Regions from separate parts of the Homo sapiens genome. Here region 1 is linked to region 2. Evidence: fine-mapped expression QTL. A gene starts in region 2. The other region holds a variant in brackets. All regions are shown on one strand. Distances are from middle to middle. Region 1 overlaps LOC107984215 (a long non-coding RNA gene). Region 2 holds the start of MSRB2 (methionine sulfoxide reductase B2).

Region 1 (5,376 bases), 24 kb before region 2:
AAGCCTGGAGTCAAGAGCCTCCAGGACCAGGCCTAGAGACTTAAAGGTGGACTATTCTGAGGCGTTGGGCGCCCCCTAGTGGTCCCTTCATGCCACCAATTCCCACAGGATCCATAACGATAACCTTTTTTACAGAGCGGAAGGTGTCTTTAGTTAGGCTAAGTGGAGACTGAAACAAGGACCTGGCCTAATAATGCACCAAAACTGTAGAAACCTTCTCTGATCCCTTACTTTCCAAAACATTTTTTATAAGAAGGTAGGTGGAATAAAAAGCAAGTTCAGCACGGAGCCAGTGCACTTCACAACAATGCTTAATTTGTCTAGAGCCCCCAGTAAGATGCACCAACTCAAAAGCAGGGTGAGACAGATGGCGGAGTCTATAGCAATGCAGAGATGATCCTGGGAAAAGCCATGGGCAGAAGAGATGTCGATCCAGCAATAGTGGAGGCTTGACAAGGCCCTGGCACTTGCACCTGCTGATTTTTATTTAAGGACACTCAAGAGGCCAGGTGGCTCATGCCTGTAATCCAAAAGCTGTGGTAGGCTGAGGCCAGAGGATTGCTTGAGCCCAGGAGTTCAAGAGCAGCCTGGGCAACATAGTCAGATCCCATTTCTACAAAAAAAAAAATAAAGAAAGAAAGAAAATTAGCCAGGCATGCTGGTGCATACCTGTAGTCTCAGCTACTCAGGAGTCTGAGGTGGAAGGATCACTTGAGCCCAGGAGTTTGAGGCTGCAGTGAGCCATGATTGCACCACTGTGTCCCAGTCTGGGTGACAGAGCAAGAACTTGTCTCTAAAAAAAATTAAAATGCTCAGGAATAAATTTCTCTATTCTACGCATGACACACATTCCTCTGAAAAACCGCACTGTGACAGGCCACACAGCTACCTACTCAGGATGCCCCAGAAAAAGTCCCAGCCACAGATTCTGTCTCCCTTAATGACTAGAGACCTCATTCTCTTTAAATGGCAGATTGTCCCAACCGCAAATCTCTTCTGCACAGTCAGCCTGGGATGCAAACAGATTGCTTTAACGTGTAACTTTGAAAGTCAGGTTGTCATAACCTAGAACTCTGGGAAGCCTCATCATGAAATCATAAAAGCTTGTGTTTGGCTAAAGCAATGTGTTCATGTATCAGTAATTCATGCAATCCTGTACAAATGCAATTTTAACAGATGTTAGCACATACCTGAACTGGTGGAACATTTCCATTAATAACTGTCTGCTTGTTCCGGGAGGCTGGGGAGCCTTATCCTCATCTGCCGGCTTAAGTTCAGGTTAGGCTGGGGATAGAATTTCCATGTAGACATTTTTAAAGTAACAGTAGTAGACGCTTGAAAGTTTCTAGCAAATGGCAGGACATAAATATGCGACCAGCGTGACTGTTTTTGCACAGGTTCACCCACGCAGTAATTACTCCTCAGTCTTATTTGATACATGCTAATTCCTATCTTGTTCTAATTGATTTGTTTTCAGGTCCCTGGGTCTCATAGTGACAACAGTGAAACAAAGAAGAATGATGGCATTTCCCAAAAAGGAACAACAGTTCCCACATGTGTCCAAGAGGAAGAACTGGCCATGGTTGGGGCAGGGTAGTAGTGGGTTAGGTGGTAGCAGTGTCTCCATGTATAGGGAGAAGCCCAGGGCAGGTAGGCTTTGGCTGCCATCCTCTGGCACCGAAGTTCTCCTTAGCAATTGCCCATCTCATTAAGACAGAAACGCATGAGAAAGGGAGAAGACTGTCCTGGTCAGGCTGGGTGCACACACACTCTTCTGGCTATTGCTGGAGTTAAGGCCCAGAAAGATCTTTTTTTTTGAGATGGAGTCTCGCTCTGTCACCCAGGCTAGAGTGCAATGGCACAATCTCGGCTCACTGCAACCTCTGCCTCCTGGGTTCAAGTGATTAGAAAGATCTATTCAGAGTGCTGATGGGCCAGGTGCGGTGGCTCATGCCTGTAATCCTAGCACTTTGGGAGGCTGAGGCGAGCGGATCACTTGAGGTCAGGAATTCCAAACCAGCCTGGCCAATGTGGCGAAAACCTGCCCCTACTAAAAATACAAAAAAATGCCAGGCGTGGTGAGGCATGCCTGTAATCCCAGCTACTAGGAAGGCTGAGGCAGGAGAATGGCTTGAACCCAGGAGGCAGAGGTTGCAGTGAGCCGAGACTGTACCACTGCACTCCAGCCTGGGTGGCAGAACAAGACTCCATCAAAAAAAAAAAAAAAAAAAAAAGTGCTGATGGCAGCACTTATCTTTTAATTGCACATTCCGATGGAACGTTCTTGTCACAATTTTATAGAAACCATTGTAAAATGCAGATGTGGACATGCACTTAAAACAGGGGTCACAGAGGCTGTTAAAGGACACAGAAAAACAGAGGGGAGACAGAGATTGGGTGACTCAAGTGCTAATATTCTTCTGTCTGGAGTAACAAGGTTGTTGCAGTTCAAGAAATAATGTGTTCTATAGTATCTGGTTATCTGTCTCCGATGTGCCCTTTGTCATGGTTGGGTACTCAGCCATGGGCTGTGCCCATGTTCAGGTGGCTCCTCAGAAGATTGGCTACTAACTACCCAATTTGCTGACACCATTATCTAATTGTAAGCAGTCAAGTAATTACTGACGCCATTAACTAAGGCTTAGGAGTGGTGTTCCCAAACCACAAGCCACTTTAAAAGAGAAGTGGTC[C/T]TCAGTGTCCCAGCTATTAACTATGACCCTGTATTTGCTAACCTGGCTAGACTGCAGTACAGGAAGCTGAAATGTGCTCTCTGTACTCATAGCATGATTCAATTCAAGGCACCTGTTCTCACACTAGACTGACGGAGCAGCAGTTCTCACACTTCAGCGGGCATCAGAATCAGCTGGACGCTGATGATTCCTGGGCCCCATTTTCAGAAATAGCCATTCTATTAGGCCTGGGATGAGGCCTCAGAATTTGCACTGTTAACAAGCTCCAGGTGAGCCTGCTTCTCTGGTCTGGGGCCACGCTTTGAGAACCACTTGCCTAGAATCTGAAAAAAATCTCCCACTTAGGCTAGCCTGAGTCTTTTTCTTTTTTTTTTTACATAGAGACAGGGTCTCGCTCTGTTGCCCAGGCTGGAGTGCAATGGTGTAATCATAGCTCACTGCAGCCTCAATCTCATGAGCTCAAGCAATTCCCCCACCTCAGCCTCCAAAGCAGCTGGGACTACAGGTGTATACCACCACATCTGGCTAATTTTTGTATTTTTTGGAGAGATGGGGTTTTGCCATGTTGCCCAGGCTGGTCTCGAACTCCTGAGCTCAAGTGATCCTCCTGTCTCAGCCTCCCAAAGTGCTGGGATTACAGGCATGAGCCACTGCACCTGGCTAGTTTCACTCTTTCTTTCCCAATGTCTGTGTAGCAAGAAATAGGACAGATGCTACTCAGTCCTGAAAAGTAAACTATCACCTTGGCTTACAACTGAAAGAGATGTGCAGTTTTGTGAATTTCTGAATCAAAGTCTCTTTATTAATAACCCACGCAATTCCCATTTTAGCCTTCTTTTTTTTTTTTTTGAGACGGAGTCTCGCTCTGTCGCCCAGGCCGGACTGCGGACTGCAGTGGCGCAATCTCGGCTCACTGCAAGCTCCGCTTCCCGGGTTCACGCCATTCTCCTGCCTCAGCCTCCCCAGTAGCTGGGACTACAGGCGCCCGCCACCGCGCCCGGCTAATTTTTTTTTGTATTTTTAGTAGAGACGGGGTTTCACCTTGTTAGCCAGGATGGTCTCGATCTCCTGACCTCATGATCCACCCGCCTCGGCCTCCCAAAGTGCTGGGATTACAGGCGTGAGCCACCGCGCCCGGCCTAGCCTTCTTAATGCCCTGGAGAGATTAGCACTAGAAACAAGAACACAAAATTGCAAAATGAATAACCTTCCGGTGCCCTGGAGAGATTAGCACTAGAAACAAGAACACAAAATTGCAAAATGAATAACCTTCCGGTGACAGCTGTGACCACACTGAGGGCATTGGAGCCAAATAAAAGTATACTCAACTGCTTGTTTATCTCATTTTGGACTCTGCATATATTCAGTCAGTCGAAGCTCTGAGATGCCTGAGACAAGGAATGAAAAGTAAGGAATTAATATCTCAATGCAACAATTCAAAACTGAGAAAAGAAGGTCGGGCACAGTGGCTCAGGCCTGTAATCCCAGCACTTTGGGAGGCTGAGGTGAGGGGATAACTTGAGGCCAGGAGTTCAAGACCAGCCTGGCCAACATGGCGAAACCCCGTCTCTACTAAAAGTACAAAAATTAACTGGGCGTGTTGGCGGGCACCTATAATTCCAGCTACTTGGGAGGCTGAGGCAGGAGAATCACTTGAACCCAGGAGGTGGAGGTTGCAGTGAGCCGAGATTGTACCATTGCACTCCAGCCTGGGCAACAAAAGCGAAACTCCATCTCAAAAAACAAAAACAAACAAAAAAATACTTGCTGATGCAGAGTGAACTCTCCACTGGACCTTCCTCTTTCAGAACGCTCCAGAACAAAAGTTGGCAGCAGGCCCTGTGTGCTTGTATTCCCCAAACTCCAGAGAATTCATGTCAAGTATTCTAAAAAATTCTCCCACCACTCTTTAGTCTGGCTTGTTAAGCCTCTGGCCAGGGGATCAGAGGCAAGTCTCCCTTCTTGCAGGCACTCCAATTTCCATAAATTCTATGTTGGAGAAAAGGAGAGAACTTAAAGAAAATAATAAGGAAGGCAGGGTTTCCCAGAACACTTTTTACCTGATCAGGAAGTGGAATAGAATAAAAGTCCTCAGGAAAAGAACTAGGATATCATTTCCCTTCTCTAAAGGATATTTTGTGGCTCATGGCTGTAATTCCAGCAATCTGGCAGGCTGAGGCAGAGGATCGCATGAGCCCAGGAGTTCAAAACCAGCCTGGGCAACACAGCAATACCCATTTCTACAAAAAAAAAAAAAAAAAGCCAGACATGGTGGCATGCATCTGTGGTCCCAGCTACTCAGGAGGCTGAGGCGGGAGGATCACTTAAGCCCAGGAGCTGAAGGCTGCAGTGTGCTATGATGGCACCACTGCACTCCAGCCGGGGTGACAAAGAGAGACCATGTCTCAAAATAAATGAAAAAATGAATGTTTGTGCCTCAAAATTCTTAGAATATTGACTCAAATTAGGATGAGATTCTGATTTCCTTCTTAGTGGAGCTCCCAGAAAGATTAGCTCCTAAAAATTTACTCTGAAGAGGAAAAAGAAACACATTGGTGTAAGTGACCTTCCAGACGCCTATTGTTCATCATGGTGTGAGTGCTGTGATATTCTCTTTCACTGTTTGGGAGCCACACTATCCCTTAGCCTTGCAAAAGGGAGCTCCTTCTGCGTTCTGTCTTACAAC
Region 2 (5,376 bases):
AAAATTCTAAAAAAATGTAATCCATGATACATAGAACATAATCCAACAATACATGAAACAAATAATAAAACTGACAAAGCAGGCTTTATTGAAGAAATACTAAGTTGGTTTAACGTTTGAAAATCAAGTAACAAACTACAAAAAGAAAATAGGAAAAAGGTATGATTATATCAGTAGCTGCAGAAAAGCATTTGACAAAAATCCAACATCCCTTCCTGATAAAAACTCTCAGTAGACTACAAATAGAAATTTCCTTAATCTGATAGAAAATTTATGAAAAACTTATAGCTAATATCATACTTAATGGTAAAAGGCTGAATACTTTTCCTCTAAGATCAGGAACAAGACAAGGATGTTCACTCTCAACATTTCTATTCAACACTGCGCAGGCTCTAACCAGTGCAATAAGGCAAGAAAAAGAAATCAAAGACATCTGTATTAAAAAGAAAGAGTAAAACTCTTTCTACACAGATGACATGATTTTTCTATGTAGAAAATCTGATAAAATCCATAAAATGTTACTAGAACTAAGAAATGAGTTTAGAAAGATTACAGAATACAAGATCAATATACAAAATCTACATACTAGCAATCAGAAATTGAAATTGATAAAACAATACCACAGCATCAAAAATATGAAATGCTTTAGGATGAATCTATCAAAAGATGTGCAAAACCTATACAGTGAAAACTACAAAACACTACTAGTAGGTGTTAAGGAAGACCTAAATAAATAGATAGGCATATCTTTATTCATGGGTCAAAAGATTCAATATTGTTATGATATTAATTTCCCCCAAACTTATGGATAGAATCAATGCAATCCCAATCAAAACTTAAGTAAGATCATGTGTAGAAATTGACAGACTGAATCTAAAATTTATGTTGAAATACAAAAGACCTAAAATAGCCCAAACAACCTTAAAAAAGAACAGAGGTACAGTACCAATGCTAGCTGGTTGCAAGTCCAGTCATCAGGATATTGTAATATTGATGTAAAAATAGACAAATTAATTAATGGGACAAAATAGGAAGTCCAGAAATAGACACAACACATTGATAGGAAACTGATTTTTGACAGATTCAAAAACAGTTCAGTGGAGAAAGAGTAGTCTTTTAAAAATTGGTGCTAGGAGCCAGGCCTGGTGGCTCACGCCTGTAATCCCAGCACTTTGGGAGGCCGAGGCAGGCAGATTACCTGAGATCAGGAGTTCAAGACCAGACTGGCCAACATGGTGAAACCCCGTCTCTACTAAAAATACAAAAATTAGCCAGACGTGGTGGCACACGCCTGTAATCCCAGCTACTCAGGAGGCTGAGGCAGAAGAATTGCTTGAGCCTGGAAGATGGAAGTTGCAGTGAGCCAAGATCGTGCCACTGCACTCCAGCCTGGCCGACAGAGACTCTGTCTCAATCAATCAATCAATCAATCAATAAAAATGGTGCTGGAACAACTGGATATAGATATGCAAAAAACAAAACAGATAAACAAAACAAAACAAAAATTTTGGCCATATATAAAAATTCTAAATCGGTCAGAGACCTAAATGTAAAACCTAGAACTATAAAAATTTTAGAACAAAACATAGGAGAGAATCTTTGTGATCTTGGATTAGGCAAAGATTTCTTAAATATGATACCAAAAAAAGAACAATCCATTAACAAATTGATAAATTGGGCTTCATCAAAATTAAAAACTGCTCTTCCCAAGACAATATTAGGAGACAGAAAAGACAAACAAGAGACTGGGAAAAAAAATCTTTGTAAAGCATATGTTTGATAAAAGATTTGCATCCAAAATATATAAAGTGTTCTAAGCTCAATAATGAAACAACTCAACATTAAATGGGCAAAAGATCTGAACGGACACTTCACCAAGGAAAATACACTCGCTGCAAATACGCACATGAAAAGATGCTTAACATCATTAACGATTAGAGAATGCATAATAAAGCCACAATGAGCTACCACTACACAGAACCGGAACATCTACAGTTAAAATCTCTGGACTTTCAAGTGTTGGCAAGGATGAAGAACAACTGGAACTCGCATAGACTGCTAGTGGGAAGGTAAAGAAAAAAACCACTTGGGAAAACAGTATAGTAGTTTCTTAAATGGTTACACCTACCTTACGACCTGGGCATTCCACTTCCAGGTATTTACCCCAGAGAGGAAAAACCGTATATGTCTGTACAAAGATTTGCACAGGGATGTTCCTAGCAGCTGTAGTTCTAATCAGGAAAAATTGAAAGCAGGCTAAATCAAGTGCTGACTAAACACACGGTGGTATATCCATAAATGGAATACTGCTCAGGAAGCAATGAATGATTGTTCCATGCAAAAACACGCAGGCATGTCAAAGTAACTATGTTGAGTGAAAGAAGCCAGACAAAATCAAGTACATATGGGATGATTCCATTTATGGACGACTCTAGAAAATGCAAACTAAAACAGATCAGTGTTTGGGCTGCGGATGAGTGGAGTTGGGATAGGTGGAGGGGGGCAGGGCGAGGGAGGAGCAGGAGTGGGAGGAGCTGGGAGATGCAGAGATGGGTTGGGGAGGGTCTCATGGAAGGGAAGGGAGAGAGGAAGGGGGAGAGGAAGGGGGAGGAAAGGCAAGGGGAAAAGGAGAGGAAGAGGGAGGGGGAGAGAGAGGCAGAGTGGGAGGAAAGAGGGGCGGGGACCTGGGAGGGCCCAGGGCACATAGTGGGAGGAGCAGGTGGGAAGGAGGGAAGGAGGGAGGGGCAGGGGAGGGAGAAGAGGGGGAGGGAGACGAGGGGACTGGCGGTGTGGGCGGAGCGTGGGGAGGGAGGCCGACTAGCGCAGGCGGACGGGAGAGAATGGGGGAGGGGTGGGATGGGAGCAGGGGCAGAGACGGGCAGAGGGCAGAGGGCGGAGCGGCGCCGGAGCGGGCGTCATGGCGCGGCTCCTCTGGTTGCTCCGGGGCCTGACCCTCGGAACTGCGCCTCGGCGGGCGGTGCGGGGCCAAGCGGGCGGCGGCGGGCCCGGCACCGGGCCGGGACTGGGGGAGGCAGGTAGGACGCGGGTCCCGCAGGCCCCGCCGCCGCCTACGGCTTTCGGCTTCATTTCACCGGCTGCACCCGGGAGCCTAGGGCCGGTCCAGGCCGGGCGCTGCCCTCCTACTAAGCCCTCCTCGGCGCGCCCCTCCCCCCCCCCAGCCCGAGGATCTGGGACAGTGGATTGTAAACTTGGTGGCGGCAGGGTGGGGACTGACCCCTGTGAGAATCCGAGGAAATGAACAAATGATCCCCCTAAATGTGCGCATAATTTTTTTTTTCTTGGCTCGGGGAGTGGGGGCATAAGTGGGGCTCGGGGGCCTCTGACCCCTATCGGGGACTCCAGGCGAAGGCCCGGGGCCTGGGCTGTAGCAGCCCGGCCCGCGCGCCCCTGCGAAGGCCCCTAGTATTTTGCATTGCAGCCCTCTTCGTAGTTCCGCGGGCTTCCTTCCAGCATCTGAGAAGCAGGCAGTTCAGACTTGGGGTTCCTGTGAGTGTTTCCTGCCCTGCTGACTTCCCATAAATGTGTCTAAGAGCCAGGGAGACTGGGTTGATCATTTGTTCCTTCTTTAAGGTGACAGCCATTGTTAATGACTGAGACAGAGACCAGGGCGAGCCTGTGTGTGTGTGTCTCTCTCTCTCTCTGTGTGTGTGTGTGTGTGTGTTTCTGCTAAATACTTTTGGATCCTCTCTTGGATCTGGGTACCTGCACATTTCACCAAGCAGGAAGGAGTCACCTCGGGAGACCTGTGCCAGCTACCCCTGTATTTCAGTTCTATTTCAGGGTAACTTAGTGCCCCAGGGGATTGGCTTCCTGGGCGGTTGCCAGACTGACCCACTCTGAATCCAATTTTATATGTGTTCATTGAAGACATTCAGAGATACCCAACTGATGAAAATGTACCAACTCATTCTGAGCTCTTTTTAGCCCCTGAAGTTTTCGAAATGCAATATTGAAAGAATACGTAACTAAATAAAAGCGTTGGCGTTGTGGAATGTTAGCTCATCCAACTTGACTTCCAGCTATGGCCTTTCTAATCACTGGTGTCTCTAGTCAGTCTGATGACATTTGCTGTGAGCCTACTGTGTGCCAAGCATTGTATTGCTGAGAACCACAGGTGATAGAAACAGGTCACAGTTACCGACGAGCTCTCTATAACCCCTTGAAAAAGGATGGTGGTTTTAGCGGTAACTACTTCATGGCTGTAATTGCTGCTGTCAGAAGCAGCCTAATGAATTGCCCTGGGATCTGAAGTTCTCCAGCAACAATAAAATTTGGCCAGCCACCAGTAGGTAACAGGAGCTGTGTACCTTATCAGACACCCCTCCTGGGAATCTATTCGAAGGAAATAGTTCAAAAGAAGAACAAAGAGATATATGCAAAGATGCTTTAAGCACTAGTCTCTTACAAAATGGAAACTGGCTGTAACCCAAATCAGTTAAGAAATACTTACGTAAATCATGAAAATTCAATCCAACAAACTGTTAGGCAGCCATTAAAAATGATAAACGGAGTATTTCTGTGGTGAAGGGCTTGGGTATGAATAGATGCAGATTTTGAGTCTTGGCTCTCGGTTACTTCCTGGCTCTGTGTCTGAGCTCAGGCTGCTATTGCAAAACACCGTGGACTGGGTGGCTTCAACAACATTTTCTCACAGTTCTGGAGGCTGGGAAGTCCAAGATCAAGGTGGGAACAGATTTGGTTCCTGATGCAGACCTGCTTCCTGGCTTGCAGTTGACTGCCTTCTCACTCTGCCTTCAGGTGACTGTCTCAGGAAGGACCACTAATCCCTCAAGAGAGCCTCACCTTTATGATCTAATCTAAAACTAATAACCTCCCAAGCCCCACCTCCACATTCCATCTCATTGGGAGTTAGGGCTTTAGCATATGGGAGTGGGGAGAGGAGCAGGGAGAACATATAATATTCAGTTTGTAACAATGTCTTTGGACATGTTTCTTGAATTTGGAAAGTTTAAACTTCAGATTTTTTTTCCTTCTGTCAAATAAGGATAATGATAATGGTAGGGTTGTTGTAAAGAATAACTTTTTAATTAAATATTTTGTTACAATGCTTGACACTTAGGCACACAATAAATGTTAGTTATGATTACATAAATAAGTGGAAAGGACAAAAATGTAGCTACATTTAACTTACATCATGGGCTTCGGGAGTGTTGAGAGAGAGGGAGACATTGGGAGGGGGGAAATGAGAAGATATTGAAATGACAGTATTTTTTTCCAGTGCTGCAATTTCTCATATGCTTAGAGTGATTTTTTTTAATCCAGATTGACAAAGAGCAAACTGAAAAAGGAAAGTAAGAAATATTCTGGAGCAAAAAATCTGTTGCTTCAGGAAAA

The links.
Region 1: its variant is fine-mapped to the expression of MSRB2 in whole blood (TOPMed, PIP 0.99).

The regions. Positions count from the first base shown.
Region 1 is chr10:23,068,285-23,073,660 of GRCh38, forward strand. LOC107984215 (a long non-coding RNA gene) reads right to left here. Exons shown (of 3, transcript XR_001747394.2): 2 at 1,191-1,284. Among named protein-coding and RNA genes, the nearest start is that of MSRB2, 25 kb to the right of the region's middle. RefSeq lists enhancers at 1-170, 2,416-2,525. The variant C/T (reference allele first, on the strand shown) is at 2,691.
Region 2 is chr10:23,092,692-23,098,067 of GRCh38, forward strand. It overlaps MSRB2 (methionine sulfoxide reductase B2), which reads left to right and starts at 2,888. Exons shown (of 5, transcript NM_012228.4): 1 at 2,888-3,035. The coding sequence starts at 2,918. It overlaps LOC107984215 (a long non-coding RNA gene), which reads right to left and starts at 2,588. Exons shown (of 3, transcript XR_001747394.2): 1 at 2,129-2,588. RefSeq lists a silencer at 2,696-3,165.